Linked DNA regions of Homo sapiens. The protein of the gene in region 2 interacts with the protein of the main gene of each other region in a pairwise test. Each region holds a gene or a part of one and is shown on either strand. Other genes may lie near its edges. The genes, in order: MAGI3, PLXNB3 and SPOCK2.

Region 1 (3,745 bases), on a different chromosome or scaffold from region 2:
TCTGTTTCAGAATATCTGAAAAAAAAAAAAAGGCTTTTTCTGGAAAAATGCTGCTGTAAGAAAAGATTACAACTTGTTTTTCTTTGTTTTATACTAAAGGTTACTGCCGTTTCTCAGCCATACCAATAGTGCCTGTGACTTTATTTCCACTTGGAACCTTCCAGGGCCCTGGAGTTATCAGTGTTTTCTTAACTGGAGAACTGCTTTCCGGTTTGAACCTTCCAGTCTCTTTGTTTTTGTCAGCTGCCTCTAGTTCTTTCCCTTTGTGATCTTCTGTTTTGTTTGAAACTACCTTCTCTTCAGGTTCTTGCTTCAGCCTCTTTTCTGATAGCTGGACATTTTCTCCTATTTTATCGTTACTAGAACTTGTTTCTCCTGTGGTTACTTTCTTTCCTTTTTCATTTTCAGATACTTCTTTACTTGTAGTCTTATTAGTCATTTTGGATGGAAGAGATTTCTCAACCATTCTTTTGATTTTTTTCTCTGGAGACCTTGTTCTGCTTTTTTCCAACTGATTCTGCTTTGCATCTTTCCTGATGACGTCTGATTTTTCCTTCCCATCTGGGATCTGCTCAGCATTACTGCCCGTATAGCCTGCTATTCTTCGACTCTTACCCTCTAATAATTTGGCCTCAGCATTTGATGGAGCTTTGCTTCCTTCAATTTTTTGCTGCTTTTTTGGGCTGGCCGACCGACCTCTGCTTTTTCTGCACTGATCTTGTCCAGAGCCTGCCCTGGTGCTGACCTGACAACTTTTATTTTCCCCTTTGCTGGGGCTGAGGGATTGATCTCTGGGTCTTCTTTTGGGGTTATTTTTTAGAGGACTAGGAATCTTATCCAAATGTTCCTCTGAATGTTGACTGGCTGGCTTTTTGGGACTAACCGATCTACCTCTTCGTGTAACACCATTTTCTACTTTTAATAGATTTTTCTTGTTACTGTGCCCATGACTGCTGGGTGGATCCCTCTTACTCACATTTTTCTGGAGAAGAGACTGATGCTTTATCTCAGGCTGATTTTCATTTAAAGTGCTTTTCTTTTCAGGCACAATGTCCTTTAATTCTTCTGCCTTTTCACATATCTGAACTCTCAAAGATTCTTCAATTACTGGCACGTGAGACTCTTCAAATATGGAAGCAAAATGTGAAGATGGGGGTAATGGTGACTGTTCATCATAAATCACATTTGAAGACGAAGGATTATTAATATCCCAATCACCTAAAAAAGTGATTTGAATGGAACATTATTAAATTTTAGAATTACAAATAGGAACAATACGTTTTGAACTTTGACAGCCATTTGAATTGTCGTAACTGCTTAAAAAGCCTGAGTATTTTATACAGTTTGTATATGTTTACAACATATCTCTCTATAAAGGCGGATGTGTACAGACATCTGTTCATACATGAAGGATGGGTTGTTTATATACACAAAATAATATTCATTTTTTCCAATTACATATAATTAGTGAGATAATATATGATCTGTAAATTCTCTATTAGTAAAGCCCAATTAGAACTTACAAGTTATAAAGCTGAACCAAATTACGTGGCCCAAGAAGCTCACTAATTATTATGAATTGATACAGTTTAGGATATGGCAAAATCACTAATTAATAAAGGAAACCAAACTGTGGTAACCAGAATGAGGCTCATGGGCATTTGTAATAATTCTCTTGCATTAAGCTGTCAAATTTAATGTCAAAAGAAGACTGAAAAGTGCAGAAGATAGAAATAGATGTATTTAATAGCATCATTTTTAATTTAAAAGAAAACAAAAGAAGAAAGTGATTTACAAGACATGCAAATTTACCAAGTCTTTTTAAGGAAAGACCAAGAAAAGCCCTGAAAGCCTTAATGTTGCTCGGGTTTCACGTAGGAGCACAGACCGGAAGGAGCCAAACCTGAAGAGGGAAGAGAAAAAGCCTAGGACTATGTGAAAAAAAAAAAAAAAATCAGTGCAGTTAGCAAAGATGTCACTGGGAACATATGATTTACAAGCAGATGGTGGAAGATAATACAGTCAGAGAATCATAAGCTGGAAGGGTACTGTAGGAGGTTATGTCTACACTTATCCCTCAAAAGCGGTGGGGTGGGGTGGGGTAGGGCAGGAGGTGGGGAGCTAGATGAGGCAAGTACTGCGTGGGTGTGGTACTGCCTTTATTTCTAGAATAGTGCACTCAAAAAACAGTGACTTTCAAATACCATGATATTTCAAAACATGCCATGGAAACCCAGGAAGTTTAACATTAATACAGGACAGAAATGGTCTCAGGTCCAACTCCCTGTCTCCAGGTAGGGTGATAGCAACTTGTTTTTGCCGAGTCACCAGAAAAGCCTAAGTTTTCATGCTGCGCATTCATTATAATATAAACTTATCTTGCTTTACAGAAATAAAAATATTGGTTGGTAATGTGTAATTAGCTAAGTAAGAGAAAAAGCTGGGATATTTTGAAGAGATTTAAAACATTTTTTATGGTATTTAAATTGTTTGCCTCTAATACACTTTTTTAATAGGTACATTTCTCTACAAAAACAACTATATGTTTTTTCTGATTAAATTTAAAATACATTCCATTCCAACGAAAGTCCTGCCTAAGTCACTTGTTTTCTAATACTATTTATGATAACTCTGCTATGTAACTAGCTTTTCATGGTTCTAGCATTCACCTCTGAATTAACTAGTAAAATATCTATCCTCTCCAAATATATATTCCTTTTTCTTCTGTCCCCTCCCTAATATACAACTTTTCAGCTACTAGTGGGCTACTTTACTTACCATGGTCAGGTATCAAGCCAGTTCCTGGCCTCAAAAGAAGAAGAACTTTATTTCCACCAGCCTGAATGAGCTCAATTGCTCGAGTATGTGTGATTCCTTGTGTAGGTTCCCCATTGATTTCAACAATCTGGTCACCAACCTAGACAGAGAACATTCACAGGAACAACATGAAACTATGCATCCTTTGTAAATTCTGCTTTTGTCAGCTCTTGAGCCATTCAACCTTGCTAAGTGATTCTTTCGTTTGTAAAATACCTAACGTGTACCCAGTACTGCCATGTGAGAGTTGATGAGAGGACAGATGACAACAAACAACAGGAAGTGGCAATGTTCAGGTTTACTCACAAAAATCCTACACAGGAAAGTTTTATATGGCTACTAACTAAGATCTGGACATCTTGAAATCAAGAATCAAATTCTAGAATCAGATTTGGAATTTTCTAAATTTATAGAAATCAAATTTAGAATGTTAATCAAATTCTAGAATTTGGTTCTTGATTTGAAGATGCCCAGATCTTTAATAGCCATATAAAACTTTCCTGTGTAGGATTTTTTGTTTGTTTGTTTTGTTTTGCTTTTTGAGACGGAGTCTTGCTCTGTCGCCCAGGCTGGAGTGCAGTGGCGAGACCTCGGCTCACTGCAAGCTCCGCCTCCTGGGTTCACGCCATTCTACTACCTCAGCCTCCCGAGTAGTTGGGACTACAGGCGCCCGCCACCACGCCCGGCTAATTTTTTGTATTTTTAGTAGAGATGGGGTTTCACCGTGTTAGCCAGGATGGTCTCGATCTCCTGACCTCGTGATCCGCCCGCCTCAGCCTCCTAAAGTGCTGGGATTACAGGCGTGAGCCACCGCGCCCGGCCCTGTGTAGGATTTTCATAAGTAAACCTGGGCACTTGCTGTGTAGGGTTTTTATGCGTGAGTAAACCTGGACATTGTCTCTTCCTGTTGCTGCCATCTGTCCTCTTA
Region 2 (3,745 bases):
AGCCAGCAGTGGAAGGAGGCAGGCAGGCCCTGGGGAAGGACGCTGTCAGGAGTGTGGACACGCTGTTGGCAGACCTCACTGCCCTGTCCCCTTCCCTCCTGATGGCTCACTCGGAAATGTTGAAGGTTCCGCACGCGTAGGGCCAAATGGCTCTCCCAGCCCACAGGCACCAGGTGGGGACCTGCCAGGCCTTCGACCTGTGGGCAAGCCCCTGGGCCACGCACCTGGATGTCCACCTGGGAAAACAAGAGCCCTCAGCCCTTCAGAACTCAAAGGGCCTACTGCTGGGCGGGTCTGGGAAGGGTGGAGAAGGGACAGCCCTGTCTCTGCCCGAAGTTCGGGCCCACCCACCTCCTGGGCGCTGTAGATGGTCCTCTCGCCCTCTGGGCAGTGCTCTCCGTACACGCAGTGGCTACTCTGCGGGCACCAGTGACACCGCCAGATGCTGCCCACGCAAGCGCGACACCTAGAGGGGCAGGGTGGCTGCTCAACTGAGTGCCCTCTGGGGTCGCCACCCCTACCCCAGGAGGCAGGCCCAGGGACTCACGGGGCAGCCGCCTCCAAGGCCTGGACGGCACTGCAGTCATAAAAGGAGAAGTTGGTGGCAGCCACAGTCACGTCCTCGAACATCAGGGCCAGGGGCACAGTGACGTGGTCTGGGAGGGGACAGTGGGGGCAGGACAGGTCAGGTGGCTCATTACCCCTCCAGCCTCCATCCCAGCCCCCTACCCCATGGGCCACTCACCTGTGCCTGGAGGGTTAAGTGGCACCTGGTCTTGGGGAGGGGTGACACAGGCCACGTGGGGCCCTTCCACATGAGCCAAGCTGTCATAGTCCCCGAACGCACAATGGAAGTATTCATCTGCATCCAGGATGGGCAGCCGGGGGACAGACAAAGTGACCTGGGATGCAGCGGGGAGAAACCGGGAGATGTAGCCAGAGAGAGGGGGCAGCAGAGGCCATGGGAGAGGAAGGAGGACGGGAGGCAGGCGGGGTTCATGCTCCAGGCAGTGGTCATGCTGCCCAGAGGGCCCAGTGGTGGTGGGCGGCTTACCTGGCCCTGCTCCTGGCGGGGGTGGTGGCCCGGCAGCAGGCTCTGGATGTGCAGGCAGTGGCTGTCCTCCTCATAACTCCACAGCCACTGGTTCAGCTGGCCTGCCCGCCCGCACTGGCCCTTCCGGGTACACCTGCCAGGCAGGGGTCCATCAGGTCACCGTGGGGGTCCTAGACTCCAAGGATGACCGGCAACAGGGGCCTGGGGAGGCCGGCCCAGCTGGAGTGCAGTGGGGTGCAATGAGCAGGAGGCGTGAAGGGGACTGTGTCCAGAGAGAAAGGGGCCAAGCAGGCAGGGCCTCATGGCCAAGGCGTGGGCTCCAGCCCTGAGAGGCAGGTGCGGCTGGGCTGAGGGACGCACAGTGACTCAGGGCTGCCTTAAAGGATTCCAGGGGCTGCCGTGTGGAGCACCGGCTGGAGGACAGCTGTGTGGGGTTCTGGACCCTGGCTGGGGCTGCTGGGATGAGGAGTCCACAGGCCGGGTGGTGTCGGAAAAGGGGGGTGCCAACCAGATTGACGGCTCAGTGAGATGGGGCAGGATGGGTGACCTCCGTGGTGGCCCTGAGTCTCTCCAACAGGCAGGGTTGGCCTCCCGGCACGCCTAGGGCTACTTCCAGGGGCAGCCTCGTGGCACACACCACCCGTTGGCCCTAGCCTAGGCACAGGCCCCGTGCTCACCTGCCCTGGAGGACACACCAGCCACACAGCGGGTCCTGGGCCTGGAGGCAGCTGGCACAGTCAGGGAACTGGGGGCAGGCTGCCACAGGTATCCGGTCCACCTGGAGGGGCAGCAGAGCAGAGAGGCAATGGGCACGAGACTTGGGCCGCGTGTGCTGGCCCCTTCAGCCCCAGGATGGCCCTCACCTGGTGGGCAGTCAGGACATAGAGGTGACTGCCACTGCTGTCCAGCAGCAGGTCTGGGCTGATGGCTGAGCCTGGAGGCCCCACTTGCTGGGAGTGGTAAACCTGGCCCTGGGAGCCGTGGAGAAAGACCTGAGTGGGGGGACAAGGACGAGGCTGGGCCAGATGGCCAAAGGTTGCCTGTTCCAGGGACACGCCCTCCTCCTAGTGGGGGCTCCTTTTTAGAGCCAGTTCCCCTTCCTGCCGGGCCATCGAGGGAGGACACATCACTTCCCCCACTCAGCACCCTCAGGCCTAGGACACTCTCCAGGGAACCATGACACCGGGGCAGCAGCGGCACCCTGGGTGAGGCCCCGTGTACCAGGGACAGTTCTGCCAGGTGGGAGGGCAGCTATGGGGAGACAGGAAGGTCACCAGGAGGCACCACACCCTGCCCACCTCACCCAGCCACCCCAGCCACCTTCACCGTGAGCCACCACCAGCTGGTGAAGGCCGGGCTGCAGGGGGCAGTGCTCAGCCAGCAGTCACTGTGTGGCAAAGTCCCCTGACCCAACCGTGGGATGCGGGCTAAGAGGTGGAAGTTGCTGGGGGCTTTCCTGAGCCTCCGTGGCCAGGGGCACACCCAGCCGGACAGCAAGGCCGGGCCCTCACCTTGTACAGCTGGCCCTGGGTGTCCCCCAGGAAGGCTATCATGTGCCCATCTGCCTGGAGAGCTGCCACGGCGCTGACCGGCTGCCCGAGCTTCAGCAGAGGCTGGACCTCCAGGGGCTGGCGGCCAGCAATGGGGCTGGGGGTGTGCTCGTCGCCACAGGGGTACGACTCGGGGGAATCCTACGTGGCAGGAAGTGGAGAATCAGCCCCCGGAAGAGAGCAGAGAGGCAGTCAGGGGGGGTACCCAGGCTGCCAGCGGGAGGAGAGCCAGGCACCCTGGGATGACCCCAAGGCCCAGCAATCAGGGCCGAAGGGCCAGGGCACCTGGCAAGCTCATAGCATCCAGAGGGAGAAAGGTGGAAAGAAATGGGTGGAGAGCAGGCAGGAGACCTGGAGACTCAGCTGACCCCTGGCTGAGAGGTTGGCTGGCACTTCCCATGGGCAGGCACCCCTGTCCAGTGCTGAAAGATGCCAGCCATCCACAGAGAGGGGGGATGGAAGGGCATGCCACTCACAAGGGGCAGGGTGACGCAGCGCGACGTGACGCCGTACTCCACGGTGGCTTCCTCTGCGCCGCTGGGGCCCCGGCCGCCCGCCGTGTAGCAGAGTCTCCGGGCCTGCTCCATGCTGGCACCCAGCTCCACCATGGGGAAGGCACAGAGCGCCGCCTGGGTGCCCCTTGGGCCCGCGGCAAACACCCCTAGCAAGGTGCCCGGGGCAAGGAAGGCGGCCTGGATGAGGCCCTGGCCCTGGCAGGCGAGGGGGACCTCCACGTAGGAGTACAGGTTGGTGTCCCCCAGGCAGACGCGGGCCACGTAGGAGCGGTACTCAGCCTGGGCCCGGGCCCCGCGGCGGCGGAACACGAAGTAGGCGGAGCGGGCGTCGGCAAAGGCCCCGACGTAGCTGTTGTTGTAGTCGGAGAAGTCGCCCACCACCAGGCGGCCCAGGCCCTCGCTGGAGAAGGGCTGAGACCCGGCCAGCTGGCGGATGGCCAGGGGTGGCACCCCTGCCGACAGCTTGCCCGCCAGGCCTCTGGCCACAAGCAGGAGGTCCCGGCCGGGCAAGGGCACCACCAGCCCCACCGTTGCCACTCCCGGGGTATTGGCAGCCACAAACTGCCCGTCACCAGGGTCCTCAGCCTGGTACAGCACCTCGGCCACATCCCCAAGGCGCCGTGTCT
Region 3 (3,745 bases), on a different chromosome or scaffold from region 2:
TTCCTTTCAGCTCTGACATGCAGTGACTTCATGAAATATTTAAGGTGGTAGCTTGTGAGAGGTTGTAGCTTGCAGAGGAGAAAGGAGTGAGGGACATTTAAGGAAGCCTTAGCTCCAGCTGGGTGCAGTGGCTCCTGCCTGTAATCCCAGCACTTTGGGAAGCCAAGGCGGGTGGATCACCTAAGGTCAGGAGTTTGAGACCAGCCTGACCAATGTGGTGAAACCCCATCTCTACTGAAAATACAAAATTAGCTGGGCATGGTCGCTTGTGCCTGTAGTCCCAGATACTCGTGTGGCTGAGACAGGAGAATTGCTTGAACCTGGGAGGCGGAGGTTGCAGTGAGCCGAGATCACGCCACTGCACTCCAGCCTGGGTGACAGAGTGAGACTCCGTCTCAAAAAAAAAAAACACAACAAAACAAACAAAAAAAGGAAGTCTTAGCTCCAGCCCAAGGACAAGGCTCTGCCTGGCTCCAAGACCCTGGAAAAGGTTCCAGTTCCCTCCCTTCTTTCCTGAATCATAGAAGATGAAAGATGGGGTTGCAGTCTTAGAAGGCTGCAGGGGCATGGCCGGTAATGTAATGCATGAAGAGTGCTTGGTCACGGGCCACTCTGTGGAGCACAGGTGTGGTGGAAAGCAGGCAGCTGCTTCTTGGCCCTGGTCTATTACAGCTATGTAGGAATGCAGGTCCAGGACTCCCATGCTTCCATTTTTCAAAGACAGGCCAAGAATCCAGGTATTTATGTGAACTCTCCCATTTGGTAAATGTTAGTGCATAAATAACTCAATTAAAAAAAAAAACACTTGGTGGCCAAGTATGGCCCAGAGGTCATCAGTTTGCAACCTCAGATTTGGTCTGACCCCCTAAGTGAAGTGTGACCCCCTTTTACCTCTGGCCTTCAGACCTGGAGTTGCTACCTGAAGGCCCCATGGGACTCAGTGACTCCTAGAAGAAGAGAAGCTGGGGGAATTTATGCCCTGCTCAGTTGGTTCCACCCTTCTGAGCTGGAGGAGGGTCTGGCAGCAGTGTGGGGAGGGTGGGCAGGGGCAGGAAGGGGCTGATCTGCTGAAGATTGCTGCTGCCTTCCTGTTGGAACAGGTCTGCTCAGCCCTCCCTTCCCCTGCTCCTTCCTCATTGTCACTTCCACCCTGGTGTGCCCCCCACCCTCTCCTGTAGGATCAAGCAGCCGACCGTGAAACTCCATGGAAACAAAGACTCCATCTGCAAGCCCTGCCACATGGCCCAGCTTGCCTCTGTCTGCGGCTCAGATGGCCACACTTACAGCTCTGTGGTGAGGAGCCCAGGCCCCAGGTAGGGTGGGGGTGGAGTCACCTGAGGCCACAGGAAGCAGAAAGGATGACCCAGCTGGGGCCTCCGGAGGGGTTTCCAGGACTGAGGTGGGGCCAGATGGCAAGGTCAGTGTGTTCAATGCAGCCAGCCATACTGGGGCCACCTGCAGCCCTGGCTGGAACTACCTGAGAGTTGGAGCCAGACCCTGTCTGTCCCTGACCTCGGACAGGTGCAGGTGGGGAGTGGGGCCTGGAAGAGACACTATGGTCAGGTAACTGCAAGTCAAAGGAACTGAGGGAAGACCTCAGCCAAGTGTGGAGGGCTGTGGAAGAAGGAGCTCTGGCATCCAATTGTTAGTGGGGGAAGAAAGGAGGATTTCCACAGGGAGGCGCCAGTGTTCACCAGTGAGCAGGGGCCTTCTGGGGCAGCAGGAAATAATCCTCCATAAGAAGGTGATGGAAGAAGGAACCGATTGGGAGAATGAATTTGCACCTTATGTGGATTTTTATGAGGATTTCAGGAGACAATATTTGAGAAAGCATTTAAAAAATTTTAGGCTGGTCACGGTGGCTCACGCCTGCAATCCCAGCACTTTGAGAGGCCGAGACGGGTGGATTGCTTGAATCCGGGAGTTTGAGACCAGCCTGGGTAACATAGTGAGACCCTGTCTCTACAAAAAATACAAAAATTAGCTGGGTGCAGTGGCGTGTGCCTGTGATTCCAGCTATCTGAGAGGCTGAGGGGGATGCCAGGAGTTCGAGGCTGTAGTGAGCCATGATTGTACCACTGCACTCCAGCCTGGGTGACAGAGTGAGACCTTGTCTCCAAAAAAAAAAAAAAAAAAGTAACATAGAAATGCAGGTGCTGATAATGAATGTTTTTACTGGCAACAAGGAGTCGGGAATTGCTTGGTTTGGGAGGGCACTGACAGCTGGCTTGGGGTGGGTGCCAGGGCTGAGGGGCCTTCTTGGAGTGAGATGCAGATTTCAGTCACCCGCTGTGGGTGATGATTGACATTGCTGTGGGGATGAGGTCATCCAGGGAGAAGAAAGGGAGGAGAGAGAGAATGAGCAAGAGGCCAGGGCAGAGGCTGCATTTAGGAGGTGAGAGGGGTGCAGGGGAGCTGGCAGAGCTGGCAGAGAGGAGGAGGAGAAGAAGAGGAGCTAGTGTCCCACAACCCAAGGCCAGGGCGAGGTCTGGGCAGGACGCTGCAGTGCGGTCCGGTCCAGGGGTCACGCTGTCCTTTAGGGAGGTGGAGGTCAGCAGGAAGTCTGGCTTTCATCCCGGCTCATGGCCTTGGGCAAGTCACTGGGCCTCTGTGCGCCTTGCTGTTCTCTGCTGAGCAGGAGAAACCCAAGCCTCCCAAGTGAGATAATGTTGTCGAGCGCTGTGATGACCCGCTTCCCATTAGCAGCCGCCCCATGAGAAGAAAGAGATATGACCAGGAGAAAAGGCCCTGGTCAGAACCTGGCTTTAGCAGGCAGCTGTGGCAGAAGCAGTTCTTAGCGAAGGCCGAGGAATTGTTAGATGCTCCATAGGCGGTGCTGTGTCCTATCAGGAGAACTGAGAAAAGTCCACTGGGGTGACTGGGGGGAGATCATTGAGGGAAGGGCTGATGGCTGATTACAGAGGGACCAAGGAACAGGCCATGAGAGCCAGGGGGGCAACAGACAGCTAACACAGGGGAAGGGCGACAGGGGCAGGGGAGGGGTGACAGGGGCAGGGGAGGGGAGACAGGTGTCCTGGGAGGGACAAATCCTTAGAGAGGGCCGAGCAGGCTCATGGGAGCCTGCATGGCTAGGACCAGCTCTGAGCCCTGCTTCCCGGGCCCTGCTTCTCTCCACCGTGCACCTCAGTCTGCAGAGGAACCAAGAGGACCCTTCAGGCTGTTCATGGGCACTCCATGGGGGGAGGCAGATGTGGCTGCCATGAGAGGCTTGAGGGTGTCCCCAGCTGTGGGGACCCCTGGGGTAAGCCCTCAGTCCCCTGTTCCACCTTTCCCCATGTGCAGTGTAAGCTGGAGCAACAGGCGTGCCTGAGCAGCAAGCAGCTGGCGGTGCGATGCGAGGGCCCCTGCCCCTGCCCCACGGAGCAGGCTGCCACCTCCACCGCCGATGGCAAACCAGGTGAGGACAGTGCTGGGCCACCAGGCTAGGGGTGCTGAAGGGCCACCTGGCACCTCCTTCAGGGCTCTAGGGTGGTAGAAGAGGTGTGCAGAGCAAGAGGGAAGTGGCAAAAATGCAGAAAGCTTGAGGGAGCTGTGAGGTCAGAGGCCCAGATTAACACAGAGCAGGAGGCGTGGGCTCAGCCCTCGTTTCTCCCCTGGGTGCCTGGAAGGTGGGCAGAGGGAGGGACTCAGCCACAAGGAACCTGGGCTGTGTGTTTTTCATGCCAGGAAGGAGTGGGTGGTGGGAAATGGGAGAGGACTCGAGAGGAAGCCCCCGATTTCCACC

The links.
Region 1: the proteins of PLXNB3 (region 2) and MAGI3 interact in a two-hybrid assay, tested with the Homo sapiens proteins (one study listed by BioGRID and IntAct).
Region 3: the proteins of PLXNB3 (region 2) and SPOCK2 interact in a two-hybrid assay, tested with the Homo sapiens proteins (one study listed by BioGRID and IntAct).

Annotation. Positions count from the first base shown.
Region 1 is NC_000001.11:113,680,370-113,684,114, reverse strand, and holds part of MAGI3 (membrane-associated guanylate kinase, WW and PDZ domain-containing protein 3), read right to left. Parts: intron 2,918-3,745; coding exon 2,779-2,917; intron 1,932-2,778; coding exon of another isoform or gene 1,822-1,931; exon of another isoform or gene 1,219-1,821; coding exon 101-1,218; 3' UTR 1-100.
Region 2 is NC_000023.11:153,767,249-153,770,993, reverse strand, and holds part of PLXNB3 (plexin-B3 isoform 1 precursor), read right to left. Parts: coding exon 3,081-3,745; intron 2,746-3,080; coding exon 2,566-2,745; intron 2,047-2,565; coding exon 1,918-2,046; intron 1,833-1,917; coding exon 1,732-1,832; intron 1,188-1,731; coding exon 1,055-1,187; intron 903-1,054; coding exon 746-902; intron 657-745; coding exon 548-656; intron 467-547; coding exon 352-466; intron 237-351; coding exon 111-236; intron 30-110; coding exon 1-29. UniProt on the Homo sapiens protein: Receptor for SEMA5A that plays a role in axon guidance, invasive growth and cell migration. Stimulates neurite outgrowth and mediates Ca(2+)/Mg(2+)-dependent cell aggregation.
Region 3 is NC_000010.11:72,067,860-72,071,604, reverse strand, and holds part of SPOCK2 (testican-2 isoform 2 precursor), read left to right. Parts: intron 1-1,178; coding exon 1,179-1,293; intron 1,294-3,303; coding exon 3,304-3,418; intron 3,419-3,745. UniProt on the Homo sapiens protein: May participate in diverse steps of neurogenesis. Binds calcium.